7 separate regions of the Homo sapiens genome follow, and all the other regions are linked to region 7. Evidence: fine-mapped expression QTL. A gene starts in region 7. Each other region holds a variant in brackets. All regions are shown on one strand. Distances are between the middles of the regions. Region 1 has its middle 42 kb from the start of PLB1. Region 2 has its middle 31 kb from the start of PLB1. Region 3 overlaps PLB1 (phospholipase B1). Region 4 overlaps PLB1 (phospholipase B1). Region 5 overlaps PLB1 (phospholipase B1). Region 6 overlaps PLB1 (phospholipase B1). Region 7 holds the start of PLB1 (phospholipase B1).

Evidence for each region. PIP is the estimated chance that this variant, and not a neighbour inherited with it, causes the effect.
Region 1: its variant is fine-mapped to the expression of PLB1 in whole blood (TOPMed, PIP above 0.99). The same link has a PIP of 0.9 or more in lung, monocytes and neutrophils.
Region 2: its variant is fine-mapped to the expression of PLB1 in whole blood (TOPMed, PIP above 0.99).
Region 3: its variant is fine-mapped to the expression of PLB1 in whole blood (TOPMed, PIP 0.99).
Region 4: its variant is fine-mapped to the expression of PLB1 in whole blood (TOPMed, PIP 0.92).
Region 5: its variant is fine-mapped to the expression of PLB1 in whole blood (INTERVAL, PIP 0.96).
Region 6: its variant is fine-mapped to the expression of PLB1 in whole blood (INTERVAL, PIP above 0.99).

The regions. Positions count from the first base shown.
Region 1 is chr2:28,451,971-28,456,386 of GRCh38, reverse strand. No RefSeq gene overlaps it. Among named protein-coding and RNA genes, the nearest start is that of PLB1, 42 kb to the left of the region's middle. RefSeq lists enhancers at 3,630-4,143, 4,144-4,416. The variant C/G (reference allele first, on the strand shown) is at 2,168.
Region 2 is chr2:28,463,094-28,467,509 of GRCh38, reverse strand. No RefSeq gene overlaps it. Among named protein-coding and RNA genes, the nearest start is that of PLB1, 31 kb to the left of the region's middle. The variant C/T (reference allele first, on the strand shown) is at 1,937.
Region 3 is chr2:28,643,987-28,648,402 of GRCh38, reverse strand. It overlaps PLB1 (phospholipase B1), which reads right to left. Exons shown (of 58, transcript NM_153021.5): 58 at 4,261-4,416. Among named protein-coding and RNA genes, the nearest start is that of PPP1CB-DT, 110 kb to the left of the region's middle. The variant T/C (reference allele first, on the strand shown) is at 2,269.
Region 4 is chr2:28,619,920-28,624,335 of GRCh38, reverse strand. PLB1 (phospholipase B1) reads right to left here. Exons shown (of 58, transcript NM_153021.5): 47 at 4,004-4,071; 48 at 3,693-3,736; 49 at 3,358-3,457. Among named protein-coding and RNA genes, the nearest start is that of PLB1, 130 kb to the right of the region's middle. RefSeq lists an enhancer at 2,457-2,546. The variant C/A (reference allele first, on the strand shown) is at 2,283.
Region 5 is chr2:28,632,777-28,637,192 of GRCh38, reverse strand. It overlaps PLB1 (phospholipase B1), which reads right to left. Exons shown (of 58, transcript NM_153021.5): 56 at 4,154-4,249. Among named protein-coding and RNA genes, the nearest start is that of PPP1CB-DT, 120 kb to the left of the region's middle. The variant G/A (reference allele first, on the strand shown) is at 1,652.
Region 6 is chr2:28,600,860-28,605,275 of GRCh38, reverse strand. PLB1 (phospholipase B1) reads right to left here. Exons shown (of 58, transcript NM_153021.5): 36 at 4,416; 37 at 3,944-4,024; 38 at 3,312-3,377; 39 at 2,355-2,455; 40 at 1,229-1,310; 41 at 517-621. Among named protein-coding and RNA genes, the nearest start is that of PLB1, 110 kb to the right of the region's middle. The variant T/A (reference allele first, on the strand shown) is at 2,419.
Region 7 is chr2:28,494,211-28,498,626 of GRCh38, reverse strand. It overlaps PLB1 (phospholipase B1), which reads right to left and starts at 2,567. Exons shown (of 58, transcript NM_153021.5): 1 at 2,458-2,567. The coding sequence starts at 2,512.

The DNA of each region.
Region 1 (4,416 bases), 42 kb after region 7:
TGTTTTACAAGGAGGGCCACCTGGCTCCTCAGGCCACAGCTCAGAAACCCCTGCTCTCCCTAGGAGGACTCACAGCCACATTTTCTCCTTTGCCTTTTAAGTGAGCTGTAGGGAATCCTTTGAGTCTCTTATCTGGGTCACCATTTAGGATAACTTCCACCGGAAGTGTCCTCTGCTTGGTTCCTTGACTTCAGTGTCACCTCCCCGGAGGCCTTCCCCAACTACCCCATTCCTAAGTCACTGTCCCTCCCATTATCTTGTATGATTTTCCGCCTAGCACTCATCATGTCTGAAATGAGCTCACCTGTTTACATATTTATTTTAAGTCACCCCTTTAGAGAATGCAAGCTCCACTAAGGCACTGACTGTGCCCCAGTGCCCAAAGCAGTGGCTGGCACAAAATAGGGGCTCAGCAAATATTTGTTGACTAAGTTATTTTGTTACTGAGCAGCAGCATAACCTAGGGCAAGGCAGTTAAACTTTTCTGGGCCCCAATTTCCTCATCTGTAAAATGGGCAACTACTCTTAATGATTGTGCTCCCTTTTCACGACAATGCTCTGAGTGTTGTCTCAACATGACCTTGTTTTGCCACGAAAGGACTTCTGCAGTGAAACAGGAGAGGTCCCCGATCCCCCTCAGGATGTGCCGCTTGCCTTTTCGGTCACCCCTGCTGCTCAAATCCCTCTCAGGAGGTGGAGCATGCAGATGGGAAGGTGCAGAGGCCAGGGTGAGCCATTTGGGCTCTGGCCCTACTGTAGTGTCTAAAGGTGGGTGCCTGCAACCCCAGTGTTACAAAGCTCTTTCAGCTTTGCTGTCCGCAGACAGCATGTGTTAACCAGCTCAATGGACCCTCTGCCTTTTCGCAAGGGCAGAGGGCCAGTGTGACAGCTCTCTGTATCACAAGCTCTTATCCAGCATCCCGGAAAAACTGGGTCACACATGGGCTTGAAGGATGAATGCGAGGTTTTATTGAATGGTAGAGGTAGCTTTCAGTGGGACGGATGAGGAGCCAGAAGGGGGGTATGGAGTAGGAAGGTGATCTTCCCCTGGAGTCAGGAGCCCAGCAGCCGGACTCCTCTCTGACCGTCCCCAGTCAAACTCCTCTCCATGTTCAGATGTTCCTCCTCCTCTCTCTTTCTCTACTGCATCGTTCCACTGTCCGTCTGCTGGTCTGCTGGCTTGCTCGTCTGTTTCTGAAGCCTGGGGTTCAGGGTTTATATGGGTGCAGGATAGGGGGTGTGGCAGGCCAAAAGGCAACTTTTTCCGCTCAAAAACAGGAATGCCTGTCCTCATTTAGGGCCGTGGGTCTTCAGGCTTGAGGGTGGGGCCTTTGCCAGGAGCCACCCTCTTCTACCCAGTATTTCCCTGTCTCCTGTCCGTATCACCAGGCCATCTGGATGAGTACTTATGGAGAGAGTTCCTAGCAGCTTAGGATGTTGCTTCACCTTGCAGACTTGAGTTTGCAGATGCCAGAGAGAGGTTGGAATGTGTGCTAAGTAGATTGGGGTATGTGAAAGTCTCTCCCCTAGAAGGTCAGCCGTAAGGAGGCAGGGATCTTGTGTTTTATTGATTTTTATGGCCCAAGAGTCTAGAACAGTGCCTGGCACCAAGGAGGCTCAACGAATAGTTATGAAATGAGCACAGGAGGAATGCTGGACACGTCATTGACAGTCAGAACATGAACTTCCATTCTTGGGTGAGTGTCGTGTGGTATGGAAACAGCAATAATAATGCCTTCCATTAGTGGAGCCCTCTGTAAGGTGTTTACACACACATCATCTCATTTGATCCTCATGACAACCCCATGAGATAAGTACCATTAAGTGTTATTATCCCCAATTTACAGATGAGATAACTGCGGCTCAAAGAGTTCAACCTGCCTGAGGCCACATAGCTGGTAAATGGCAGAGCCTGATCTTGAACCCAGGATTTTCTCGCCCTAGACCCAATGCTCTTATCTGCCTGTGTGTTGCTGGTCATGCAAAGCTCTGAGTGTGAGCAGCAGCTGGAAGCCTCACATGAGAGCCAAGGCCCTGAGGAGAGCCACCGTGGAGCAGACAGAAGAGCTACCTGTGACTGAGCCCAGGCCTGCTGTGCACACGGAGGCTGCCAGAGCTCTCAGCAGCAGGGGCTGGGTGAGAAGCAGGAGAGGCGGGTGAGCTGGGC[C/G]AGGCCCCTCTCAGCTCCAACAGTGGCCAAGTGCCCCTCTCGGGGAGCTCCTGAAGAGACCGCAGGGCCTCACGTAGGCACCGCCACCCTCAGGCCCAGACATGCATGGCTCCAAGCGGGCCCTTCACAGGGCACAGATGATGCCAAGGATGTGGGCAAACTGGTTTGAGGAACACAAAAACCAACTCAGAGTTTTCTCCCTTTCCTCAACAAGGCACCAGACCTGGCTTGTCACACCCCATGCCAAAGAGAAGTCTTCAAAGTGGTGTTTGCTTAGCCCCCACATCCTCCTGACTTTGCCAAAGTCCCTTATGTCTCCCTGAATCATACCTATGCACACGCACATGCACGCGCGCGCACACACATACACACACACACACACGGTGCCCAGGCCACCCCAGGCTCCTTTCCCTGGGAGCCCTCGAGCTGAGCCCTGGCCCACCTCTGTCCACAGCAATCCTTCGCACTCATCCTGCAGGCTCTTCTCTCTGCTGTCTGTTCCAAAGGCGCCTTCCCTCTTCTATACTCCAGAGCCTGCCCCAGGCCCTCCGCCCTGGTTCTGGCCATGGGGGCTTTCCACTAGATTTATCTGTACAGGTGACCGCTCCCCGTGTAGCCGCCAGCTCCCTGAGGGTGGGGCTCAGGTCCCTGTGCTGGGACCCACCTGGTCTAGGGGTCACAACCGCTGGCCACCCTGCATCAGGCCCTGTCAGGGAGCCCTGGGAGTCAGTAGTTTAGCAAACCTGTCTGGGGCCTTCCCCCTAGAAGCCACGGGGGCAGTCATGAAGAAATGGAGGGTGAAGGTGGGTGAGGCCAGGACAGGTGGCGGTCCACACACTTGCTGTGTTAGTCATCAAGGGCACCCAGCAGGGCAGAGGTCATCCCTAAAGCTGTGGCGAAGGGGATGGGTGGGGAGAAGGAGACAACGCATGCCAGGGAAAAGGCATCATGTCAAAACATCTTGCTGGAAAGGCAGTTTTCCTTCCAAACTCCCCAACAAGACCCGAAACGGTAAGTGGAAGGATGTCTTGATTAATCTCAGGCTGACGTTTTGCATTTGCTCTTGCAGCCAACACACACCGAGCCATCAAATCACCCTCCTGCTCCGTGCCAGACTCCGAACATGGAGTCCTCATTCCTGCCTCAGCAGCACTGGACAGAGCTTCTCTGTCCTCCCCCCTGGAAACGAGCCCCCAGCACAGGACCAAACAGATCATTGCTTCTACCTAGTGGAGCTAATAGCTGTTCATTGACCACATAGTCACTGGTCCCCTACTCTCCCAGCCCCTTGCTAAGCACGTCACATGCATTATCTCATTTACAAATGGGGTGGTTCCCAGAGATGGTTCTGGGGACCACAGTGGAGTGGGGAGGGGGCACTTCTGACCTGAGTGGAGTGAAAAGACAGCTGGCCCAGTCTCTTTTTGCGTCTGCTGCCCAGCATCATTGTCAACAGAGTCCACCTCATGCTTAGGAATGGCCCGGTTTGGAAGGTCAATTCTAGGTTCAGAGATTGGCCCAAGGCACCCTGTACCTGAGAGGGGCAGACACTAGAGGGCGCAAGGGAGCTGCGCTTGGTGGCCCAGGCTCAGGGATGTCAACTGGGCTGCAGCCTTGGGGCAAGGGCTATCTGCAGAGAGTGGAGGTGGGAGGCAGGTGGGGGGAGCGGGGGAGAGTGCCTAACCCTGCTCCCTCACAGAGCCCTTGCCCAGACCCAGCCCTAGCCCACATCCTCTCACCTCCATCAATCGCCCAGCAGGAGCCTGACCGGCCTGGGAACACAAGAGGGAAAAAGAGGTTCTGGGCCTGGCCTCTCCCCTCTCCACCACTTCAGCCCAGCCAGGCCCCAGCAAGCCTCTCCCCTGGGCTGGAGCCCTCAGACTCTCAGGCCGCTCTCCCGATGGGCTGGGACTGCAAATGAACCACGTTCTGGAAAAACAGCCAGGCCGTGCATCAAAGAAACTCCACGGCCCTCCAGGGGGTAGGTGTGGGGCGGGCCGGAAGCAGGAGGTGGAAGGACTGATAGAGCCCTTGGTTAGGAGTTCCGGTTCGGAACACCTTCTCCTCCTTAACCCACCCTCAGGAGCCACGAGGGCTCAGTTACAAGGCTCAGGTGGCAGCATCCTGGCCTGTGAATCAGGCTGACCAGGGTCCCTGCCCCGCCTGCTCCCACGGCCACAGGGCTTGTAACCTATGAAAAGCCCACTTCTCATGGTCCTAGCCTGGCCAGAGGTTCTGAATGTGCCACT
Region 2 (4,416 bases), 31 kb after region 7:
TTCACATGTTTCTTTCCCAGCCCTACTGTAGAAGAAAGAGCTCAGGGGCTGAGGGCAGGAGCCTGATGTCACCTCAGCTTTGGTCCTGACTTGCTGGGAGGTTTGCCCTCTATATGCCTCACCTTTCTGTATCTATGTATTTTCTTTCTTTCTTTCTTTCTTTTTTTTTTTTTGAGACAGGGTCTTGCTCTGTCACCCAGGCTGGAGTGCAGTGGCACGATCATGGCTCACTGCAGTCTTGACCTCCTGGGCTCAAGTGATCTGTCATCTTGCTTCAGCTTCCTATGCAGCTGGGACCACTACCACACTTGGTTAATTTTTTTGTACAGGCAGGGTTTCACCATGTTGCCCAGGCTGGTCTCGAACTCCTGGGCTCAAGCGATCCACTCACCTTGGCCTCTGAAAGTGCTGGGATTATAGGTGTGAGCCACCACACCTGGCCCAGCATCAAAACGTTAGGCAAATTACTCCCTGCATTCGTTTACCTCATTTGGCCAGCTAGCTGGTTGAAAGGCCCATTCTTGCTCCAAAAGTCTATAATTCTGTGGATCCCATGATACTTTTATAATTTTGTGATAAGCAACTACATTTTTATCCTGTCATTGCATGTTTTATATCTGAAAGTGCACAAAAAGATTTTTATGTTCACTACCTTGCAAACAGATAAGCAAACAGAGTCATTGAGAAGGAAAGTTGGAAGTTACTCAGGAAGCTAGAAGCTAAGGAAAGACTGAAGCAAGTAGGTAAGTACCCTGGCCGGGGTAGGGGATCGGATTCCATCCAAAGCCTTCTTTGACACAGTATTCCAGGTTCATTTGCTTTCTCCACTTACCAAAAACAAACAAACAAACAAAAACCCACTAGTGCAAGACTCAGGCCAGCTCCCTCTGGCTCTTCAGAAAATGTGGTTGTTTTCTTGAATTTGGCCCTGGCTACAGCAATGACTTGAGAACGTCTGGAGAGACCTGGGTAAAAGCTGGGTGGGTAAGTTACCAGGCTCCGCCCAGACTCAGTCTCCCAGCACTACGGGCGCAGAACTGGGCTCTGAAGGCAGATGTGAGTGTCATGGTGTCTTCAGTGAGCCTGGGCTGTCAGCTCATGAAAAATTTAAAAAAGATTTTGAATTAGTTGGCATTTTTTAATGGGATGATTTTATATTTTAAAATGCAGCTTTCTGGCATATTTTGAAAATATGAGGCTGGGTGCCGTGGGTCACGCCTGCCACCCCAGCACTTTGGCAGGCAGAGACAGGAGGATTGCTGGAGTCTAGGAGTTCCAGATCAGCCTGGGCAACAAAGCAAGGCCCTGTATCTGGCCAAAAGGAAAGAAAGAAAGAGAGAGACAGAGAGAGAGAGAGAGGAAGGGAGGGAGGGAGGGAGAGAGGGAGGGAGGGAAGGAAGGAAGGAAGGAAGGAAGGAAGGAAGGAAGGAAGGAAGGAAGGAAGGAAGGAAGGAAGGAAAAGAAAGAAAGAGAGAGAAAGAAAGAAGAAAGAAAGGAAAGAAACTACCTTGCTAAGTAGTGAGCCCTCTGTCACTGGAGAAATGCAAGCAGAGACTGGAGATCATTGAACTACACCAAAGGGATAACTGTATCAAACACTTCTTAAGTCTCTTTCACCTGTGATAGTCTATGATTCAAATAGTTTAACTTCAAGGGCTCCCAGGGGGACTGAGTGGGGAAAGATGGAATGTGAGGTGCAGTGGATGAGATAAGGAGAGAACAAAGGAATGAAGTGGTGAGCTCAGCACTGTAGCTCTCAGTGTGCAGAAAAGTCAGTCAGGTTTGAGGTCAGGTCAAGGGAAACCAACAGTACATTTACATAAATGTGCTCTAAAGTTCACATTTGCTAATCTATGGGAACAGATAGATACACCGAGATAATCAACTCAGTTTGAGGCTTCTTGGAATCTTTATGCTGCTCATCACCCTGAAAGAA[C/T]GAGACAGACGAGAGCAAAGTCATCTATGTGGTTACAGTGGTATTTTCCCAACTACAGGTTAGAAGTCATGAAATCAGTTTCGTTGGTTGTAACTAGCATTAAAAAAAATGGAAAATACCAGAGCGCATCACAAGTGATTAAATGACCAAATGTTTCATTAAAGTTTTGTTTCAATACTATGTAAGTCTATATATCATATATGTATGTGCACCAAATTACGATGTAAAATTGGTGAAAACGAGTTTGAAAGCCACTAGGTCAGAGACAGAGTGGGGGCAACCCTGCTCTGTGAGCCAAATCCTGTCTCAGATTAATTTTATCTGGCCAGGGGTGGAGCAAGATGGCAACCAAGTGCAATCCTGATGGGAGCAAGGTGACAACCAGGCCTGGGACCAAGCTCTGATGGGCTTCATTCCTGAGTCGAAGAGGCCACAGCAGAGTGCACAGGCAGATTCCAGACTTTCCTCGGGAAGCTGCTATCCGTTTTCTCAAATGAGGTCTGTGTGTCCCACCATTCGCAGACATACCTCCCCACCGTGACCACCACCATCCTGACACTTGCATATTGGCCACACTCCTCACCCTAGCCCAGGAGGAAGCCAGGAACTTCTGCATGCATCATGTCTTTGGAGTCCACCCCATGGCCAGTCCTGTTCCCTCCATCCCTCCATCTCAGCCCCTTAGTGCCTCTTCCATAAGATCGCCTGGGGTATGGCAATGAATTAGTGGCATAGTCTGTATCCCCTGTCTCCATATTCCTGAATTGCTTAACTTATTGAATAGGTTTCTTTAATATCATCTGCAGACTGAAGGAACTGACAAAAAATGATGGTGTGGATTTGACAGTTGCTATGAATGAGCTGCCTACAATTCTATCTAAGGCTGGCTCTCCATTGGAGCACAGGATTCTGTACTCTCACTTTCTTTTTTTTCCTTTAAATTAGAGATGGGGTCTCTCTGTGTTGCCCAGGCTGGTCTTGAACTCCTGAGCTCAAATGATCCTCCCACCTTGGCCTCCCAAAGTGCTGGGATCACAGGTGTGAGCCTCCACACCCGGCCCAACTCTCACTTTCCTGACACATCAATGATCCCCTCTCAATTATGCCCTCTGGCATACCAACATGATATAATTTTTCCCAATGTCGAAAATCAAAACATAACTTCTCTTGACCTCATAGCCCCCTCCAGCTTCAATCCTATTTTTCTATTCTCTTGGCAGTTAAAATTTCTTGAAAGCTTTCTCCAAACTTATGGATTCAAGTCTTCGTTTCAGTGAGTTCTGAGTCTTCCACTGGAACAAAACTGTTGTCAGTTCACCAAGGACCTTCATGTTGCTAAACCCAGTAGTGAACTTTTCATCTTTATCTTACTTAAGCCATTAACAGCATTTGATACCTTTGGTCACTCTGTCTTTTTTTGAAATACTTTCTTCATTTTGACTTCAAGACAACGCTCTTGTGGTTTTCCTCTTTCGACATTGCCCACTCTTTCTCATCTGCATTCTTACTTCTTCCTCATCATGCTGGTGTGTAAACACTGGAGTGCACTGATCTGGGTTCTGGACCTGTTTCTCTTATGCATCTACACTCACGGCCTAGGTGATTTTACCCACACACATGACTCTTCATACCTTCTATACCCTGTCAAATGTTAAATGATTTATCTCCAGAGCTCCGGGTGCATACATCCAACTGGCTAGTGCACATCTTCACTTGCATATCTTGTGACCATCTGAAATGTAATGTGTCCAAACAAAACTTCTCGCAGTTCTGTTTCCAGGGTAGCATAGTGAGCTCCTGCTGTATAAACCCCTACAGGTAACTACCATAAACTCTGAACAAAATAGGAAAAACAACGACCTGAAGGCCCTGGAGTGTGAACAAAAGCAGGCAGTTTCTGGAGAGGAGTTACTACTTGGAAAAGGAAGATGCATATGCGATGAGTTTCACAGTTTTTATGGCTTTTATCCAAAAGGCAGGCCATGGTAGAGTCACACAGGGCAGATAAAATGATGATAGAAAGTCTGCAGTCCTTCTGGCCTAAAGAATCAAAGGATAGAGTTCGAGGCAACCACAGCCATTGGAAAGTGAGAGGGAGAATCCATAAACAGAGAGACGCAGAGAAGAAGAACCACAAATTCTGTGTATAAACTGTCCAAATCTCTGGCCAATTCCTAGTCCATGCATGCATGAGGCAGGCTCAAGCAGCCCAGATAAGAATGTACAAACTAAACTGAGATTTAAACTGGTGCTCAAGAGATGGTTTACAGCTTGATCCAACCAAGTTAATAGCTTGCTTAAAACAAAACAAAATTTAAAAATCAGCATTTGGCCAGACGTAGTGGCTCAATCCTTTAATCCCAGTGCTTTGGGAGGCTGGAGCCAGAGGAGCACTTGAAGCCAGGAGTGTGAGACCAGACTAGGCAACATAGCGAGACACCTCTCTACAAAAAATAAAATTTAAATAAAAATTTAAAAAA
Region 3 (4,416 bases), 150 kb before region 7:
AGGCCTCTCCAAGACAGCAGACAGGCCCTTGCTATGTCACAGTGCCAGTTGCCAGAACAGTGGATTGAGCTTAGAGTGACTTGTTCAGTGTCTTCTGAGCATTGCACGAAGATGGGAGTGGTGGTAGTGGAACAATTGAGTGTCATGCTTTTGCTAAGCCCTGGCAAGCTGAAATGCTTTTGCTAATAGACACAAAACTGGATAATGTGCTATAGGGGCATAAAACCATAACCTTGAGGTTATCTTTTTTGCCGGTCAGAAATCCACAAGTCAACATAATTTCGTAGCGTTAAGCTCTAATTAAATAGTAATAAATGACAAAGTCAAACATAGGTACGGTCTAGATAACTAAATATTTCTTAGAATATTGTTAAATAACATTGACAGGACATGTGGTCACTTATTTCTAAGTTTGAGGTACATTTTCTTAATGATATAGTCGCCCCTCCTTATCCACGATTTTGCTTTCTGTGGTTTCAGTTCCTCAAGGTCAGAAAGTCAATAGTAGCCTAACCTCATTCCCCTCACTTCATCTCATCCCGTAGTCATGGTACCATCTCACACCAACATCAAAACAAGAAGGGTGAGTAGGCAAGACAGACCACATTCACATAATTTTTATTGTATATCATAATTCTTTTATTGTTGTTCATCTCACTTTAAGTTACAAATTAAACCTTATCATAGGTATGAATGTATAGGAAAAAGCATAGTATATATAGGGTTCACCACTATCCATGGTTTCAGGCATCCACTGAGCCACGGGATTCTTAGAATGTATCCCCTAATAGGCCAGCCATGGTGGCCTGTTACACCTATAATCCCAGCACTTTGGGACGCGAAGGCTGGTGGATCACCTGAACTCAGGAGTTCAAAACCAGCTTGGGCAGCATGTTGAAACCCTGTCTCTACAAAAAATAGAAAAATTAGCCAGGCGTGGTGGTGTGCGCCTGTAGTCTCAACTCCTTGGGAGGCTGAGGCAGGAGGATCGCTTGAGCCTGGGAGGTGGAGACTACAGTGAACTGAGATTGTGCCACTGCGCTCCAGCCTGGGCAACAGAGCGAGACTCTGTCTCAAAAAAGAAAAAACAAAAGAATGTATCACCCACTAATAAGCGGGGGAACCACTGTACTGTACTTTGCTTATCTTACAAGTTTGTGGTATGGATCAAATGAGAACATATTAAAATGTTTTGTAAACTGTAAGGTGCCAAGTATATTTTAATTATTGCGATTATTTTACAAAGCCCCTGAATCATATTGTATTGGAATTAATACTGATATAGAAAGGAGAGAGAGAGAGAGAGCTAATTATTGAATACCTATTTTTTGAGTATTGTTTTTATCTCATTTAATTCTTACAAAAAGACTGAAAAGATACAGGACATGCTTCATTTTCTCTGTAAGGATTATAATAGCACCTACTTCAAGGGGCTATTGTGAGAATTAATAAAAAATACAGACTTACTGCTAAAAACAGTACCGGGTATACAGTAAACACACAAATGTTGGTTCACTAAGGGCCCAGCCTGCTATTTGAACACATTTACTGAAGTTTATTTTTCTCTAATAACAATGTATTTCATTTCTGGAAGTTTTATCTGGTTCTTAGTTCTTTCACAAATCTGCCTTTATTTTTAAAAAATAACATGGTGTTCTTGCCTCATGTTTTAAATTCCTTTTGTCTTTTATCTTTCTAAACATACATAGTCTTTTTTTCAGTGCTGCTGTTATATAAAATATGTGGATCTAATCTTGCTAGTTGTTACATTTGATTCTCACAGGGATTGTTTTTCCTAATTAAATGATTTATTAGCTGCTAGAACAAGGGTATTCAATCTTTTGGCTTTTCTGGGACACATTGGAAGAATTGTCTTGGGCCACACATAAAATACACTAACACTAAACTAACTAACACTAAAGATAGGGGATGAGCTAAAAAAGAAAATCACACACACACACACACACACAAATCTCATAATGTTTTAAGAAAATTTACAAATTTGTGTTGGGTGGCATTCAAAACCATCCTGGGACGCATGCGGGCTGTGGGTTGGACAAGCTTGTGCTATAATGTCACACATACACTAGCAAAAGAAATCTTAGTCCCCATAATGTTTTAAATCATAGATTATTGCTGGGCACGGTGGATCACCCCTGTAATCCTAGCACTTTGGAAGGCCAAGGTGGGCGGATCACCTGAGGTGAGGAGTTTGAGACCAGCCTGGCCAACATGGCAAAACGCTGTATCTACTAAAAATAGAAAAAT[T/C]AGCTGGGCAAGGTGGCGCATGCCTGTAATCCCAGCTACTCAGGAGGCTGAGGCAGGAGAATCGCTTGAACCCGGGAGGCAGAGGTTGCGGTGAGCCGAGATCGTACCACTGCACTCCAGTCTGGGCTACAGAGCGAGACTCCATCTCAAAAAAAAAAAAAAAAAATCATAGATTATTAACTAGAGATAGTTGAGTTTTTCAGACCAGTTGAAAGCAGAGGAACAATGGTGCCATCAGACATTCTAGATCTTTATTTTATACCACATTTATTTGCAATTTGGCCCAATTCACTGCTGGAACCAGTGGCGGTTTTATTTTTCTGGGTTACCCCCCCTACTCTGGGCTCCAGTATTCATTTGGACAAATGTCGCATTATGTAATCAAAGTATAACTCTGGGCCAGTTACTTCTTCCCTGAGTCTTGGTTTCCTTCTCTGTAGAAAGGGAATGGTAATAGGGATGTGTGAAGTTTCATTATTGTGCCCCATGGTGCCCACCACAGCACAAGCACTTTATGTCAACTTTTATTAGCATTTTCTTTGTGCAAATCTTTTCTCACTAACATTTATATTCCCTAGTCAAGTGTAGCCTGATGTTACAACCATCACAACAATGTAATCGCTATCAACTCCTCATCCTTTCCATCATGTCCTCTAACCCATATCTGGCTCATCCATCCTCATTTTTCCTGGTCCCCATATTCACCATGCTCATCTCTCCATCTGCATGGAGTTTTCCCAGTCTCGACAACCTCATTGCTTTTGGTAACCATTCTCCATCTTTTCAGAGCTCAAAGTTCCATGTCCTTTAGGAAGACTTGGACCAGGTTTAAGTCACAGGAATCTATCTTTTCTGAATTCAGAAGCCTCCATGGGGAGTGCCATGGACTGTGGCTTCCTCAGGTATTTGGTGGCTTTGCTCATGGTGTGGCTGTGGGTGCCGTTCTAGCTAGACTGGACATTTTCCTACAGAAAAACCCCATGGCGCACAGCCAGTGTATGTATGTAATACCACCAATTTCAAGTGGGTGCTTCTCACGTATTTTTAATTTTTGGCTTCTTAGCACATACTTGCTGGGAATTTGGTGACTGGTTTGTGGCTGTGTCCGTGTCGCTCCAGACAGGATTTCTTTGTTTTGCCAAGTGTTCCTTGGTGAACCAGCTGGGACCATTTGTTGATGTTTTAGTCTGGATTACTCTGGCAGTGTGGATTCCAACACCCTCCCTCCCCAAGCCCTAATGAGGGGAGCCTGTGGTTATGAATCCATGCTGCTTTGAGGTAGGAGCTGCGGGAAGAATAGAAACTTGCAGGAAAAAAAAAGGGTGGGGTGGGGGGAGGGGCGGTGAAGCGAACTCCTTGACTTCCTATGTTACCTTTGTCGTTATACTGTCTCAAACCAGGAGTGTAAGGGTTACCTTTGTCGTTACACTGTCTTAAGCCGGGAGCATAAGCTGGGATGTGTGACTTGGTCACCACGTTTTCCAGTCTATAGGAAAAAGCAGGGGAATGCATGCTGTTCCCATTGTATAGAAACAGACACTGAAGCCCAGAAGAACACGGAACTGGGTATAGGTCCTCCGGGTTCTCTGTTGTGACAGAAAGAGATAAGGTGATGAACCTCCCTGAGAGGAAGGCGGGCACTCTCCACCCATATGTTATTACCCCATTTCCCCAAACTCATCTCTGGGTCTCACATCTTCCCCAACAGTCTGGGCCTTATCCCAACTCTTCACCGAGGAAAAAGGCCATTTTCAGTTGTGCAGCATTTTAGAGTTAGAGGTTCACACACGGTTCCTTATTTTTCAGCAGCGCCGTGAGATAAGCAAAATGTGTACTCTTACTCCAGTTTTTACAGATGCAGAGCCTGGGACACTGGGCTCAGGCTGGCGAAGGCAGCTTCAGGGCACAGCATTTCAGTGTTGCATCCGGGATTGTGACTCAGGCTCTTTATCATCCCGGACTTCAGGATCAGAGAGAGGTTTACAATGCAGATGATGTCTACCTCCCTGGATTCTTTTTTATTGAAGTGAAATTCACATGATACACAATTAATCATTTTAAATGGAACAATTTGCGGCGTTTAGTACATTCACGGTGTTGCGCAAGCATCACTTCTATTTTCAAAGATTTTCCCTTTACCCCCTCCCT
Region 4 (4,416 bases), 130 kb before region 7:
GTCAGATAAAAAGTATATACTCTTTGATCCCATTTATATAAAATTTTTAAAAATGCAAACTAATCTATTGTGATGGAAAGAAGGTTAGTGGTTGCCTGGGGTGTGAGGTAGGGACAGGAAGGAGCAGGAGGGAGAGATTACCAAGGGGCCTGAGAAAACTCCTGTGGGTGATGAACACATTTTTCATCTTGATTGTGGTGATGATTTCACAGGTACAATGTTAAATTGTATCCTTTTTGAGACAGGGTCTTGCTCTGTTGCCCAGGCTGGAGTGTAGTGGTGTGATCACGGCTCACTGCAGCCTCAACCCCTCTGAGCTCAAGTGATCCTCCCATCTCAGCCTTCCGAGTAGCTGGGACTACAGGTCCATGCCACCATGCCCGGCTAATTTTTTGTATTTTTGGTAGAGACAGGGTTTCACCAAGTTGCTCAGACTGGTCTCCAACTCCTGGGCAATCTGCCTACCTTGGCCTCCCAAAGTGCTGGGATTAGAGGCGTGAGCCACCGCACCCAGCCAAATTATATCCTTTTAACATGTGACGTTTATTGCATGTCATTTATACCTCAATAAAGCTGTGTTTAAAGAAATGTCTGTGAGAAGTTAGGTCAGCAAAGGGGATATAGCCAATGAAAGTGTCCATGGAAGAAGCCATAAAAGCAGCAACCAGTGCGAGCTGGCCACTGAAAATCTTTGGGTGGCCACGGTAAGCTAGGTACGTGGCCAAACACACATGGTACCATCCCTACCCTTGTTTCTCATTAAGGAGAATTTACAGATCTAGGATTGTATCCCATACATTATTGCTATTGATGAGTATACCAGAAAGCTATAAAGAAAGACTTTTCTGGTCAAAGGTGACCACAGAAGTGCCTTTAACCTTTTAACAGGTTCAAGGTGTGACTAAGAGAATCCATGGGCAATAAGCCCTCGTGGGTAGGAGGGGAAGTTACAAATGCCGCTTCTTCCCCTCTTCCTAGCCATCTTCTTCCCATCCTTCAGGCCCAGACCAAGTCCTACTTTCCCTTGAGCCTCCTCTCTGGGCTCCCTGATCCACACATCTTGCATTTCCTTTTTTACCCCAGGGACCAGTGGTTCTACTTTCAGCTCTGCTACCAACTTGCTGTTGAGCTTGTACAAGTTGCTGAATCTTGCTAGGATTGACTTTTCCCATCTTTTAAAGGAAGAGGTTGGACTGGATGATTTCAGGGGTCCCTTCTGGGTCTGCATCTGTCTTTAGACAGTGCAGTTCATACTGTGTGCTCTTCTGTTCTCTTAATTGTACTCCATGCGAAGCACTGCATTGTTGCCATACCCAGCATTGTCTTTTTCAGAAAGTTATTTCCCATTTGTTTAGCCTCCTTACCTAGAGTGCAAGCTCTTCGTGGCCAGGGAGTTCATCTTTTGATTCCTTTGTATCTTTTATTTATTTTTAATTATTATTATTTTTGGAGATGGAGATTCATTCTTGTTATCCGGGCTGGAGTGCAATGGCACGATCTTGGCTCACTGCAGCCTCCACTTCCTGGGTTCAAGTGATTCTCCTGCCTCAGCCTCCCGAGTAGCTGGGATTACAGGCGTGTACCATCACACCCAGCTAATTTTTGATTTTAGTAGAGATGGGGTTTCACCATGTTGGCCAAGCTGGTCTTGAACTCCTGACCTCAGGTGATCCACCTACCTCGGCCCTCAATGTGCTGGGATTACAGGTGTGAGTCACCATGCCTGGCCCTTTGTATCTTTTAGTAACCACCTTAGGGTTCACTCTTTTGCAGGTGTTCAATGAATTCTTATTGGTTGATGGAAGGAAAGTTAGATGAAAAAAACTTTGAAACTGAAGATCCATTATTAAATGGCAAACTTTTGGTACATTTGTACTGTACTGCTTTTTTGGTGGGTATTATGTGTGGTACTACATTCTTTTCACGGATTATTTATCTCATTTAATCCTTATGACAACCCTGAGAAGTACTATTATTATCCCTATTTATTGCTGAAGAAACAGACTCAGAGATGCTAGGCAACTTGCCCAAGGTCACACAGCTAGCAAGCCTTGGAGCTGGAATGTAGACACGAATGATCTGATCCCACACCCTATGATATTAGGTGTTCTGCTATGGTTTGTATGTTTCTCTTTAGGTGAACTCATCTGTATCTATGCTAATAAACAACAGAATAGAGATAAAGGAAAGTTATAGAGCAATTATCCAACCTCCCTTTCTTAAGTCAATGGATTACTTTCCTTTCCCCTAACATTGGACATCAGAGATACCCACAAGGAGCC[C/A]CATGTTCTCAACTACTTCCCTGGCCACTGACTTCATCTGGCAGAGGAGCTGAGCAGCGGTAAAATAGAAAAGGCAATAAGAGAAGTGAAGTGAGAAAGGAAGAAGGGGCTTGATTGTCAACAGAGTGAGAAATCACCTCCTGGAAAATGAAGCCTGTACTGTACAAGAACAACAAAATGATGATGATAATAACAATAATAACAGTAATTAGATGTTGCTATAATGACCTCATAAAGCCCAGTTTTTGCAGAAAAATAATTTCTTCCTGCTCGTGACGTTGAGGAACTGACATCGCTTCCTGTGGCTTAGAGACTCAAACAGAGCATGGGGCCCACGTTACCACTTCTGAAAGGAACATTCCCTGTAAACAGAGTGAGTCAAGCCAGTGTCGTTTCCCTGGTGATCGGAGCATAGTGATCCTTCTACAAGGCATACACCCAGCACGCTCCATGCAGAAAATCAATGAGCCTGGTCAGGCATTTCAGCTTTAATTATCTGAGTTGTTGTCAACAACAGAAATCCCAGTGAAAACAAACAGCCACCATGCTGTTTTGGGGGCCCTGACATCTAACTCCCTAGTGTCAGAATATAGCTTTTTCAGAGCCAAAGACTGAAGTGAGGTGGGGAGAGAGAAAGGGCAGCTATCCCCCGGGTCATGCACTCAGTTGTCGAGGTGCTGAGAGCCACCCTGCACGTTTGACCTGCTGGGCAGGAGGTGGAGCTGGAGCCAGCAGGGACAGCGCCCGGGTCCAGGGCAGATGTGCGCCTCCTGCTGCCCTGGAGAGGCGGTAATAGCACAGTGGTCAGAGCAAAGGCTCCTGATTCAGGCATGGTCTGATCCTGCCTCCTCTGATAACTTGCTGGATAATCTTGGTGGTTCTGGAAAGCTTATAAGCCTCAGTGCCCCTGTCCAAGGGTGTGAGGATCTCAGGAGATAATTCACATAGAAAGTCCTGCACAGCTGCTATTGCCCCTGGGACCAGGCTTCTGGACACCACCCTCCTCTCCTCCGGTTTCCCACCCTGATGTCTCAGTCTTGCCTTCCACTCGCCCTCCTGTACGGCATCTACTCACCTAGCTCTGGCCCCTTCCGCTGCCACATTTAGTCCTGCTGTCCCCTCCCAGGTGCTGGTAGAGAAGCCAAGGAGGTAAGGGTTGAACTTCTTCAGAATGTCTTTAGAGGAGGAGGAGGAGGAGAAGAGCACAGGTGAGAGCCTGCAGGACCCTCACAGTAACTGAGATGAGCATGCAGGGTGGGGACATGGGTGGGACACAGGAGTTCTGGGGCTTTTCAGGGCTGGCTGACTTCCCTTCTTGCAGATAACCTCCTCTTCCCCTCCTCCAGCAGGAAGGCCCTGGCCCCAGGGAGGACGGCCACAGTGATGGTGCCTCTCTGGGCTGCTACTTACTGGGCAGTGTGGTGTGAGTCTCCAAGTTCCCATCCCCTCCAATGCTGGGGAGGAGAAAGCATATTTGTTAAACTCACACCAACATGCTGCTCCCTGTGTCAACATATGCACAAGCCAGAACCGGAACCGGGTTCTGGGCCCCTGGGGCGTCTCTCCCATCACCCTCAGGGGTAATGCAAGCATTGAGTCTCCTGTCTCAGCGCTGGGACCTGGGGACCCAACTGCATCCCTGGAGGGGTGACAGGAAACACACTACTCACACCTCTCTGAGAGAGCATCATCAATAGAGCATGCATCAAGAACATCCTCACCTCCAAGAGAGTCCCCTCCAAGATGTGGGTAGGTCACTGGAGTTGTTTGGTCGAGCTCCCACTGCTGTCTGTAAAAAGCAAAAAGAAAGTTCAGGGCTGGGGTATAGGCTGAGGGCACTGGAAGAGCCTCCTCTGGCCCTGGGGTAGCAGCTAGGACCTGGATTTGCCTTTTCTAAAAATAGTACCGGCTTTTCTCCAGGCCATATTAAACTTGGAGTGGTCTTGATACATTCTTCTCCTCAGTTCTTTACCTACAGCCAGTAACCAAGTCCTGTTGGTTCCTCCTTTCCACTCTCCCTAGCACCCGCCCCTTTCTTTCTGTTCCCTTTGCCGTGTTCCTAACTGAGACCCTCACCTCCCTGCCACGGGCAATACGCTGGCCTCCTGCCTGAGTGAACTGACTCCAGTTTCTG
Region 5 (4,416 bases), 140 kb before region 7:
GCCTCCCAAGTAGCTGGAATTATAGGCACGTGCCACCACGCTTGGCTAATTTTGTATTTTTAGTAGAGATGGGGTTTCACCATGTTGGCTAGGCTGGTATTGAACTCCTGACCTCAGGGGATCTGCCTGCCTCGGCCTCCCAAAGTGCTGGGATTACAGGTGTGAGCCACTGTACCCGGCCTCAAGTAAACTTTTAATTGAAGCTAACATACACATAGAAACGAGTACAAATCATAAGTGAGCAACAGATAAGTTTCGATAAAATGAACATACCAGCATCCAGTCAGGCAACAGACTATTATAGTCCTCAAAAGCCCCTTTCCACCTTCTTCCAGGACTATTCATCCCCCAGTGAGTCTCTACACCATCATGCTGACGTCTAACCCCATATGCCAAGCTGCTTGCTTTTGAACTTTATAGATATTATTGTATGTTGTTGAAGTTTGTTCAGCTGTCACTTCTTCAGTGAGGCCTCCCTCTTCCCAGCCATTACTCTGTGTCACATCACCCTGCTTGATTTTTGTTTAAAGCCACAGATGCGGTCAGACCTGTATGGTATTCCTTAGTATGAATGTGCCACAGTTTACTCACCCATCCTACTGTCAGTGGACATTTGGGGAGTTTCTAGTTTGGGGCTATTTATAAATAGTGCTGCTGTGAATATTTTTGTGTGTATCTTTTGGTAGACACATATATACCTTTCTTTTGGGGATATACCTAGGAGTGAAATCCTTGGATCACAGGAAATACATGTGTTCAGCATTATTAAATATACCAAAGAATTTTCCAAAGTGGCTGTAGGCACTAATTGTTTTAAAAGTCCCTGGATGGCCAAGCATTGTGGCTCACACCTATAATCCCAGCACTTTGGGAGGCCGAGGTGGGTGGATCTCCTGAGGTCAGGAGTTAAAGACCAGCCTGGCCTGGCCAACATGGCGAAACCTTGTCTCTACTAAAAATACAAAAATTAGCTGGTCATGGTGGCATGCACCTATAACCCCAGCTACTTGGGAGACTGAGGCAGGAGAATCGCTTGAATCCAGGAGACGGAGGTTGCAGTGAACTGAGATGGTGCCATTGCTCTCCAACCTGGGCAACAGAGTGAGACTCTGTCATACATACATACATACATACACACATACACATACATACACACACACACATACACACACATTCATACATACATACACATACATACACACATACACAATGTCCCTGAATGATTCTAATATGCAGCCAGAGCTGAGAGTCACGATTCTAAGAGCTCTAAGTCTGAAGACAGGGATGTCAGTTAGGAGGCTGGAGCTGTCACCCAGCACCTGGGGAGATACAAACACTGGCTGAGAGCAGGATTTCTGCAGAAGAGGGAGTAGAGGCAGCAGTAGAGGACTAGGCCTCGGGAAAGAGAAACTTCTTCAGATAAGAAGACAGAAGAAGGCAGAGGAAGAGGAAAATATCCCCTGGTGCTGCTGGAGCTTCTGGCTTTGCCTTTGCAAAAGTCTCGAGAAGGACGTGAGAGGAGGGGCAGGAGATGAAATAAGATGAAATAGTTTAAGGTGCTTTTTGCTTCCTAGTAGGGAACCCTGGGAACATCAGCCAAAGCCTGCAGACACTATGTCATAGGACTCTAATTGTGAGACATGAATTCACC[G/A]GGTATATATGTGCTTATCAGGTTGGGAGCAGTGGGGAGGGTGGTGGCATGCCCAGGTCACCAGGAAAGGACTAGAAAAACCTGGTCTGTAATCCCCCTTGTGCCATGAACAGTCTGTGTTATGTTGGGCAAACTGCTTCATGTTTCTATGCTTTAGTTACAGAATGTTCTGGCTAGATGACCTCTCAGTCTGTTCCAGCTCTAATGGTCTATTATTTATTTTTTGTTACTCTAGGGGTGAAATTCCAGCCAGAAGCCGATCTGAAAAGTTGGCATCATGCTACAGCTTTATGTCTAAGATTGGCTTTGGATGAAAACATTAGACTGTATAATTATTTCCCCAAATTATAGAGCCTAGGATAAGAAACCCCTGGATGGCTTTAGTTTTGTTTTTGTTATTTTGAAATTCGGGGTATGGCTGAGATAATAATGGCTGGGGAACCATGGACAGTCTTGTTTTGTTTCCACAATAGCTCCAGTGCGGTGTTTACGTTTTGTTTTCATATCTAAACTCCTCCCACTTATCTTTATGAAATAAAGGCCTCTTACCTGGGTGAATGGGAAGAGCTACTGAACTGCTTTAGAAGAGAAGGCCAGAGCTACATATATTTTTTTTTTCTATTTGTTTTTTGAGATAGGGTCTCACTCTATTGCCCAGGCTGGAGTGCGGTGGTGCCATCTCGGCTCATTGCAGCCTTGACCTCCCATGCTCAAGTGATCTTCTCACGTCAGCCTTCTGAGCAGCTGGGACTACAGGCATGCACCACCACACCTGGCTAATATTTTGATTATTTTTGTAGAGACAGAATCTCCCCTGTGTTGCCCAGGTTGGTGTCTAATTCCTGGGCTCAAGCGATCCACCTGCCTCGGCCTCCCAAAGTGCTGGGATTACAGGCATGAGCCACCGTGCCTGGCCAGAGCTACATTGTTAATTCACAAGAAAAGAAACCAATGGACTCTTTTTCATGTTCCAGCCGTCACTATGGCTATCCAGCCCCAGGAGATTCCTGGAGGGTCCCAGATTTAAGCAGACTTGGAGTGCCACCTGGTAGGAAGGCCATACCTTGATGAAAAAACTGGGAAGGAAGGGCCAAGGGCATCTGTGGAATCCCCTGAGGTCTCAGGGGAAAAGGAACAGGGAATAGGTACCCTTTCTTTGGGAAGATTTTTACAAAGGAATAAAGTCACATGATTCAGCCAGTGAAGGACAACCGCCTTCAAAACAAAATCCACAAAAGAAACAGGAATTATACCATATAAACTGATTTAAAAATCGTGGGGCAAACTCAAAGACATTTTGGTTACAATCCGGAGTCTTGGGCTGAAAGAGTACAATAGAAGTTCTTGGAGTGGGCAGGTACGTGATGTCCACAGGAGGAAAACCCCCTGACAATGGAAGTCGACATAAGCTGAGTCTGCCATTAACTAGGCCAAGGATAAAGCCAGTTTACATGCTGTTCTTAAAAGAAGAGGTTGCTAGAGAGGAGGAGATGGTATAGCTAAGGAGAAAGTCAATATTGTGAGTCAGCCGAGTGGGATGCTGGACATACTGGATGAGCTGACAGGGGTGGGAACGTTTGCACAGCGGTGGTTGGCAGAGACACTATGGGCCTGAAACTGTGATAAAAGGAGCTGGAATGTAGCTTGTTTAGTTGTCATAGGACAAAGGAGGGAACATACAGGTTGGGGTGGGGATTGTGTTACCCACTGAGCCTGGATTAAAAGAAACCATTGGGTTGGGAAGGCATTTCATTTGCTCCGTGCAAGAGGATCCAGTTGTTGGGGGTGACAGGTCAAGTGCTGTGCGGAAACCATTCAGTTGCTGGTGGCCAGCCACAGAAGGCAGAGTGGAAGCACCAGGCAGGTGTCCCTGAAAGACCCCCAGACTGTATGTTCATTTCATAAGGTCCCTTCTTCCCATCAGAAAGGACTGGAATAGGTATCAGCCTCGGAAAACAGGCTGTGTGGATCTCCACTTTTCGATGTTTAGAGAAATGAGTTGGGTATGAGTTGAGCCCGGAGTGCTTGGAAGGCTGATGGTGGTGACATTTGCTGAGTGCTAACTATTGTGCTAGGTGCCATGTACACATGATCTCAATGCGTTGTCTGAGACCTGTCTTGTTTTCACTGTTTTATAGATGTTGATACAGGTGGCCAGAGAGATCGTTTGCCCAAGGTCACACAGTACGAGGTAGAAGTTGGTATTTTCATCTAGCCAACCTATCTGATTACAAAGGGATCCCCTCGCAGTACCTGGGCATTGCTGAAGGAACAAAGAATAAAGTTGTGTGAGTGTGTGTTTGTATAACTTTCAAAGGGTGTTGGATAAATATAGGGTATTTTCCCTTTGGAATTAATCTATCAGGACCAATAAGGTGTGCTGCCACTTTGGGCTTTGGGGAGAAAGGAGCCATGTCTCCAGTAGTTTTGCCATTGTGAGACAGAGTGTCAATATCCTTAGATCCCCCCTTGACAAGGCCCACCAGGCCCTTGGCTGCTCACCATGTTGTTCCAGAGTGCGATGGCCATCTCGGCATGCCCGCGGTCTGAGAAGTGAAAACAGTCCTCGGAGAAGAAGGTGAGGTCAGTGTCCCCTCTCTGCAACCAACGGCAAGGAGGTTATCATCCTGGGAAAGGGCTCTGCTACCTGAGCCCCACTCACTCTCCCAGCAGGTGCCCTGGGCATGTCTCCTTTCATTCTTTCAACTTTCCTGCCAACTTGCTCAGATACTGATGGAAAAACTCCCAGAATTTAGAATTTCTTT
Region 6 (4,416 bases), 110 kb before region 7:
AGATCTCTTCTGTTCAGAGTGGAAGTGCCAGGCAAAGGGCATGGCCTGGGTGGAAACAGAGAACCCCCAGAATGCTCCCTTATAACCGCAGCGTTGCACACGAGAGAGACCACGTGCGTGGCAGAAAACTAGTCATCTGGAGCTGGCTGTGTTCATGTTGGCCTCCCTGTCCCTTATTTCCTAAATGATCTTAGGAAGGACGCTTCACATCTCTGCACCTGTGTTCCATGCGGATGATCACACTCATTTCCAAAGGCAGATGTGACAGTTTTATCTATGGGAAGCACAGTGCCTGGCACTAGTAGGTGCTCAACACAATGGAGGCTGTTACAGGGGTCATGGGAGCCTCGCACATACGGATGTGGCTCAGGCGTTCAGGGAGCCTGCACCTGCCAGCACAGCGTCTGGAGAGCTGTGTCTTTCCCATTTTATGCACATGCTCGTGGAAGCAACTGGCAATTCTGCCTTGCATTTCTTCCTCTAAAAGAGTACCATGGGTGAGGGCAGGGGACATACCGCCAGGACAGGGAGCTGGATGTTCTGGAAGAAGGGCTGCAGCACCACAGAGAAGTCCTCCTGCGTGTCATAGCGGCCTGACCCCACCAGCTCGCGCATGCTGCTCTGGGGACACATGCACAGGGTCTTCAGCCCAGGCCCTGGGTGGGCCCAGGACCCAGTGAGGCAAGAGTAGGGGTGGTGGGCAGTCCATCTCCCTGGATGGAGGGGCCGACTCAGCCTTTCCCTTGAGAACACAAATCACCTGAGGGCAAGTCCCTTTCCAGAGAATTTGGAAACAGGTTGGGTCACCTTTTTGTTTTGATTGTAAGTAGACTACTCTCTCTGAAGGGCTAGGCAGGAAGTCCCAAAAGGGATAAAAACCTGGGAAGAACCTCCAGAGGCTCGGCACCTGCCTTTGGAGTGGGAGTGGGGGAGGGAAAGGTGGTCTCATGAGGCATCCAGGGCTACGGGCCAGGAGTTGGGGTTAAGCCCTCAACGGTAGCTGGGCCATGAGGGCTTTTCCACCTGGATCCTACTGGGATGATTCCAACCAGGGCACCTGAGACACCACAGTCACGTGAGACAGAGGAAGGCACCCAGGCTGCTCCCCGTCTCCCCACAATCCCTGACCAGCTTTTCCTTCCCTGTGTGCCTCCTCTAGGGGCTCTGGGCTGTGTGTTAGAGTGAACGTAGGGGAGAGGACACAGCATGGTGCCCTTCTTGGTCTTACCCGGTAGGCTCGGCTGAAGGCCTCCAGCCTGGCTAGCTCTTGGGAGTTCTCCCGCAGGGTCAGAACGCAGTTACACAAAACGCTGCACAAAGAGGGGGAGGCAGGAGGCCCCAGAGCTCAGGCTTCCATCAGGGGCTGGTTCTGATTGCCCAGGTTCAGGGGAGGGGTGGAGAGGCTCCCTCCCGCCCTGGTTTAGGAGCACTCAAGCCTTGAGGCTCTGGCGCACATGCTCAGGGGCAGGCTTCAGGCCTGGCAGGGGCACTGGAGATGGCCCGAGGGAGGGAGCCAGTGTGGGAATGAGCACCCTCTCATACCAACAGAGCACAAGTGTTGGACTGCAGGTGCTGGGCCTGCAACCGATTATTCAGCTGAGCAAATGAATTTGGGCAGTGAAAATTTAGTGTTTAATTAAAAAGAAAATGCATCCTCTGGTGTTGGAGCTGATATTTTGGGGCCTCTGATGCTATGCCTTAGACCTCTCCTTCTTTCACATGAGTGCCCTACTGTGTCCCCTTTGGTTTCATCATGAATTATTTCACACCCATCACATCTACTTAAGAGAGAGATTTCTAAAGCACTTGAAACAATGCCTGGTACACAGGAAGTTCTGTAAGATTTGCTGAGTAAATAGATGTGTAAGATATAAAGAATAATAAAACACACATCCATGTACTTATGGCCCAGTTTAAGAAACAAAACACTCCCAGTTTGAAGCTCCCTGTGTCCCTCCTAATTCTCTTCTTCCCCTAAAGGTAACTGAGTTGCTTGTACCTTTTCCTTGCTTTCTGTTACAGTTTGACCACATATGTCTACTTCCCTAACCACTGCCCATGTTCACAGTCTAGGCTATCCTGTCTCTCAAACACCAGCCTCTGTCCCAACTTTGATCCCTCCCCTCTGTGGCTGCCTGGTATCATAGAAGTTCCTGCCAGGCACCTTGAAGTTGGGTAACAGGGGAGTCATGGCTCCAGCCTCTGGAAGGGGACGTTCTGGCAGAAGTCCTCCTTTACAGACTTGGACACATGGATAGACCAAGTCACAAAGACCCTGAGGCATCACCACTGCATGTGGGCCAGACCAGGAGGTGAGGGCATCTCCAGTGTGGGGACAGCCAGGACCTGCCTACCTGGCCTGCTGCACTGGGCACTTGTCTGGGTTTCCCAGGAACACCTGCCGCATGATAGTGGGGT[T/A]CAGGAAGTCCACGAGGTTGACCAGGACTCTGGGCACCTAAGGGAAAAGCTGCAGATGAGAGGGGGGCTCCAGGCACTTCTTCCTGGGGCTGTCTCAGGGCCCCTAGGAATGGGTTCCTTTAGCAATCCAGCTTGGTCTTTCTGGAGTTGAGTTCTGGGGAGGAGTCTATACAGGGCTACCTCGTAGGGCCTTACAGGCCGTACATCACACAACTCCATGGGTGCCACCCAAAGGGGCTGCAGCGGCAATGGCACCTCCTGGAGTGGGACAATAAAGACTAAGAGATCATCTCTGTTTAGCCATCATGTAGCAAGCCCAGATACATTAGAATTACCTTCGGTGAGATAGGCAACCTCTTCCCTCCAGCCCAAACTGGCCTAACTCTGCTGAGTAGGCACGCAGACTCAACCCCCACAGGGGAGCATCTGGTGGTCAGAGTGCCCTGTCTCACGCAGCCAGGGCAGCTTGTCCTTGCCAGAAGATGGTGGTGGTGGAGGGGGAATGTGCTGCTGGGTGCAGGACCAGACAGGGGCTTGCTCTAGACACACCCTGTGGCTCAGAAGGCAGTGCCCAGCCTGGGGGCCACCTGGCTGCCACCACCAGAAAATGTCCCGGATAGTAGTGGGGAGACATTAGACAATTCCACCAAGGAGTGTCCCATGTAGTGGTGAGGGAACAGCCTTCCCTCCTTCAGACCTGAGGCCCTTCTGGGCTGATTCCATATAAAATAAGGTTTCCTTGGGGTTAGACCCCAACCTCTGAAAAGGGAAGGAGTCCATGCCCCTGGCTGTCTCCTTGAGAGAAAGGGGTTCTTCTCTCATTCTTTCCCCCCATCCACCTTCACCCTCACCATGCTTGAGCTGTTACCAGCTTGTGGAAGCCCCCCACCCACCTCTCTATGCAGGACGTCCAAGGCATTGCGGAGATGGTGAACAAAGTTGGCTGCAGAATACAGATTCTAGAAAGAGACAGGAAGGAGGAAAAGGAGGAACTGGTTAGGGTGGGAGGGCAGTGGGGCAGTTCTCAACTTCCCTTCTGGCTCCAGCCCTGAGGACTTGTTCCCCCTCTAGCCTCCAGCTGTGGCCAGCTCACCATGTCAAAATCTGAGATGAACAGTTGACTACTTGCTGTTGTCAAAGATGGGCCAGTGGGAAGACTGGAACCTTCAGCCAGAGCTTTGGTTCAGGAGCAGAAAGTGGAGACTCCTCCTTCCAATTGCTTGCTACAGTTTCCTCTTTCTGAATTCTCAGGAGTTATAAGAGAGAGGAGTAGAAATACCATATATCTGCCACCTGCTACCTCACCACCTAGGACATGGAGATGGTGCCAAGGACCTGGAGGGTGGTGGGGTAAGAAGTGTGTGTGTGTGTGTGTGTGTGTGTGTGTGGTATGTGTATATGTGCAGACATAGGTGTAGGTGGATAATCCTAGGATTGGTTTTAGGAACTGTTCTCAGGGAAGATCTCCAACGCCTACTGGGCAAAGTTAGGAACAACAAGTAGGCCTGGACCTGGCCCCAATTACCGAATCTGTGCAGTAGTCACATAAATCGCTGCCTCCGATCAGCACTGTGATGACCTTCCAGTCTTCATGGAAATTTACTCTCTATATGGAGGGAGGAAAATGCTTGATAATTTCCAACAAGGAAATGAAAATATCCCTGCCCTAGGAAATCCATTCAACCCTCTATAACATCCTTGCCCACTTGAAATAATGGAATCAGCATCTCTGAACTGAAGGAATTTTAGAGGTTTATTTATAGACCACAGACTCTTAGCATCAGGAGGGATTTTCAGTGTCGCTGTACCCAGCAACAAAGCTCTCTCCATTGACATACCCTCCTCCACAGGACCTCTGTCAGGGGGCTGTCCGACCACTGCTTGAATGCCTCTAATAACATGGGGCTCACTGCTTTTCAGAGCAGGCCACTCCGTTTGGAGACAACTTTAGTGGGTTAGAAAATTAATGTTTAGAAATAACAGTAAATCTGACTCACA
Region 7 (4,416 bases):
GGAAACAACCGATTTTTCAATAAATGGTAGTGAGACAACTGGGTATCTGCATTTAAAAAAATGAGGGGCTGGATGTGGTGGCTCATACCTGTAATCCCAGTGCTTTAGAAGGCCAAGACAGGAGGATTGCTTGAGCCCAGGAGTTCGAGACTAGCCTGGGCAACATGGTGAAACTCCTTCTCTACAAAAAATACTAAAATTAGCCAGGCATGGTGGCATGTGCCTGAACACAATATTTTGATTATATAACCTGAGTGGGTGTGTGGTCCCAGCTACTTGGGAGGCTGAGGTGGGAGGATTACTTGAGCCTGGGAGGTTGAAGCTACAATAAGCCATAATTGCACCACTGCCCTCCAGCCTAGGTGACAGAGTGAGACTCTATCTCAAAAAGAAATAATAATAACAACATTGGGTTCCTCTCATATACTATTCATAAAAGTCAATCCCAGATGTAGGGTGATTGACTTAAACGAGAAAAGTAAATTTATAAAGCTTTTAGAAGGAAATATAAGATATCTTCATGACCTCGAGGTAGGAGAGGAGTTATTTAAGATACAAAGAGCACAAACCATAAAGGAAGATTTAAAATACATATACTTAAGAATAAAGGCCGGGCACGGTGGCTCACACCTGTAATCCCAGCTCTCTGGGAGGCCGAGGCAGGCAGATCACTTAAGATTAGGAGTTTGAGACCAGCCTGGCCAACATGGTGAAACCCTGTCTCTACTAAAAATACAAAAATTAGCCAGGCACGGCGGCAGGCACCTGTAATCCCAGCTACTCAGGAGGCTGAGGCAGGGGAATTGCTTGAACCTGGAGGGCAGAGGTTGCGGTAAGCTGAGACCAAGCCACTGCACTCCAGCCTGGGTGACACAGCCAGACTCTGTCTCAAAAAAAAAAAAAATAGAGAATATACAAATGGACAACGGTGGGACCACATATGATAACAGAACTCTGAGCCACAGTCTGCAATCGGCCAGGCCAGAGAACCAAACTGCAGCCTCTGCAGCAATCAGCCCAGAATGGTCAGGTTTGGTTAATGACTGCCATCTTCTCTATTTTTTGCTCTGCTTCCAACTCAGGACCCCTCAGAGAAAGCCAGATACACTCCCAACTGGATAACTTCAGATGCCGTGCCTCTAGTCAGCTGGTCCCTGATACCAACAACCTCCAACCAGAGCAGATCTGAAGATTTCCCTTTTTTCCACTGTGAAACTTTCCCACTCCCCTGCCTGCCTTTGAATCTTGGCCAAACATAAGTGATGTCTCGCTACAGCGAGCTCTGAATAAGTAGCCTCTGTTTGTCCTCATTTGGGTAGTCTACATTTATTTACACAAAATTAAGAATTTTGCTCATCAAAAGTCCCCATAGGAGGACAAGCTTCAGAGTGGAACAAGATATTTGTCATATATGTAACCTCCAAAGAGCTAGTACACAGCATATATGGAGAACTCCTAAAAAATCAATAGGAAAAAGACTTCAACAGGCACTTCACAAAAGAGAAACTCAAACAATCTCTATGAAAACACTCCTTGGCCTCATCAGTAATCAAAGAAATACAATCATCCTGTGCAGAAGGCATAGCAAGCATCGTCATTCTCCCCCACGGCTCAGAGCGGTAACTGACTTGCCCCAGAGAAGCCTCAAGCATGGGCTCAGACCCTAGGCAGGCCCAGGACTCTGTCCCATGCCTCCTCCACTCTCTCTGGGGAGTCAAGGGCAAGTGCCTTCTCACTCCAGACCCCGTCCTCTCATCTGGAGAAGATGAAAGATCTTTAAGGCCCTTTTCAGTTTAAAAGATTCTGCCTTCCTAAGCAAAGGGAGAGCCAATGATGGGAAGAAGAGGGGCAGAGAGGGATTGTGGCAGAGGCACAATCTACCCACAGTCATTAATGTTGGGGGGAATGGAAAGCCCTGGCTGGTTGCCCACTCAGTTCAATGAAAGCTCAGCACTCTGTTTAGCAGCACTAAAGAATGTAGGCAATCTTTTAGAATTTATCATCTGGAAATCTGTCTTCCTTTGTCCTTCAAAAACAAAACAAAGCTCATAAATGGTAATAGTAATGATCAAAATGTGCATAGTAGTAGTATTTCCATTTTAAGGATGAAAAAAATCAAGGTCCAGGGAGGTGGAAGAACTTGCCCAAAGCCACAAAGCACAAACAAATAGAATCCAGGGGTTTTTTTTGTACCATGGTACTGCTACCGGACTGCACTTCTCTCCTGTCCCAAGATCTGCCTCGCTCCCGGCAGCCTTTGGGACATGTAACCCTGTGTAGGCAGCCTCTGCATCCCATTCCGCAGGAGGCAAACCAGACTTCTTATTCTTGAACTGTACGCTTTGTGCTTTATCTCTTCAAAAGCACACACTCCTCTCACACACCCATTGCCTAAGCAACATGGGACACCAGCGGGGCTAAACCACTGGTTGTCCTCTGAGCAAAAGGCACGCTTACCTTGCCCCAGAAGCAGCAGCAGCTCCAGGAGGAAAATGCCTGGCCGCAGCCCCATGCCAGAATGCTCCAGGTGACTCGGGCCTCTGGAAGAGCTGCTCCAGCAGATGGATGGGCTATCACACCTCCTCCTGCTTTTATGTTCCTCTGTGTTCTGATAGAGCACCTGTCATAAATTTTACTGTGTTCACCTTTGAAAGGGGGTAGTGGCGGGCTGTAAATGATAAATATTAACACTTAGGCGGAAGAGTTCTTAAGGCAGATGAGTCAATGATGGGTAGCATGTTCTAGTCATAGACACTGACAGACCAGGGCCGCATAGCTGCCTCCATACAGCCTTCCATGATGGTGGGTGCCCAGAAATTGCCGGTGTTCGGGTCTGCTGGGAAGAACGTGGGCCTGGGAATCCCAGGTGCTGGTCGGAATTCCAAATCAACCACAGCTGTGGGAACTTGGGTGTATCCCTTAACGTGGCCTCAGCTTTCTCAGTTGTAAGCCAGGAGATCAAAAGTACCTTGTAACAAATGTAAACCATAAACCTACCTCCAAATGTGAAACGTGTTCCCACCGTGTCTCAGAAGCTCTGCTAGGTTCCCTGGTTTGCATGACACAGAGAGGTTTGTTCTGTTCCCCCCATCTCCAAACCCATGGGTGGCCAGTTGTGTTGGGTGGATGTGCACACCATAGATTTGTTGTCTGCATGTTGAATTCAGAGATACAAGCCAGAGAGGGGGAACCAAGTTTGACAAAATCAGCCGTTTCCTTTGGGTAAACTAAGTCAGGAATGCAGGCTGGGTCTAAACTGGGCAGACAAAGCTGGCATTTAAAGCCTGAGTGACAAATACCCTTGAGAGTAGAATTTAAATTTTTTACACAAATATCAAGAAACAATTGCCTTGGTTGATAGGAACAAATATATTTAAATTATCCTTGCTTTCTGGCCATGCTTGTGGGTGTGAGGCTGGGATCCTGACTTCTGAGGTCTAGCTAAGACTCTAGGGCTGGTTCCCATGACCCAACCTCAGATTCTGATCTCCTGGCTGACCCACTTTTCTCATATTTAAAAATCACAGCCAGACACAGTGGCTCACACCTGTGATCCCAGCACTTTGGAAGGCTAAAGAAGGAGGATTATTTGAACCCAGGAGTTTGAAAACCAGCCTGGGCAACTCCATCTCTACAAAAAATAAAAATAAATTAGCCAGGCATGGTGGCATGCACCTGTAGTCCCAGGTACTTGGGAGGCTGAGGCAAGAGGATTGCTTGAGCCCAAGAGTTCAAGGTTGCAGTGAGCTATGATTGCACCACTGCACTCCAGCCTGGACAAGAGCAAGATTCCATCTCAATTAAAAAAAAATTGTTTTTAATTACTGTTATAACCTCTATTGTCTTGAGTAGAAAGTGAAGACGAAGTGAGTGGCCCTTTGTTCCTGAATCTCTGGTTTTAGGATGTTGTCTCCCTTTCTCAACTGCTCAGAAAATATGTGACTTGTGGGTCACCACTGATTTAGCCAATGCCAAAGGCTTAGCCTAAGCCTCAGGACTGTAGGGGGGTATTGGGACATGCCAGAGGTGTGTGGACACTGACACACTTAGTCCAGCTGGCCATCAGCTAGTTCCAGAGCCTAGAAGAGGGCAGCACACACAGACACACAGAAAAGGAAGAAGAAAATACACCCAAGGCCAAGGTCTGTGGGGGACAAGTGAGCACAGATGCCCCTGGATATGTAGACACTTGTCAACTTCACCAAACTGCCCCCAAGTTCAATGAGAAGCCAGAGCTGCTGTCCCACTAAGGATGTCAGGAGTTTACCCAGCTCCATGCCACCAGCAGCTTTGAGGAGCATCACTGAACTTGCCTGGGCTGAATAGGCCAAGGTCCCCACTCATGTGCAGGCCAGCTGGAGGTGGGGTGGAAAGGACATGGGGCATGCGCAGAAGTAAGTTGGTTCCACGCTCCAG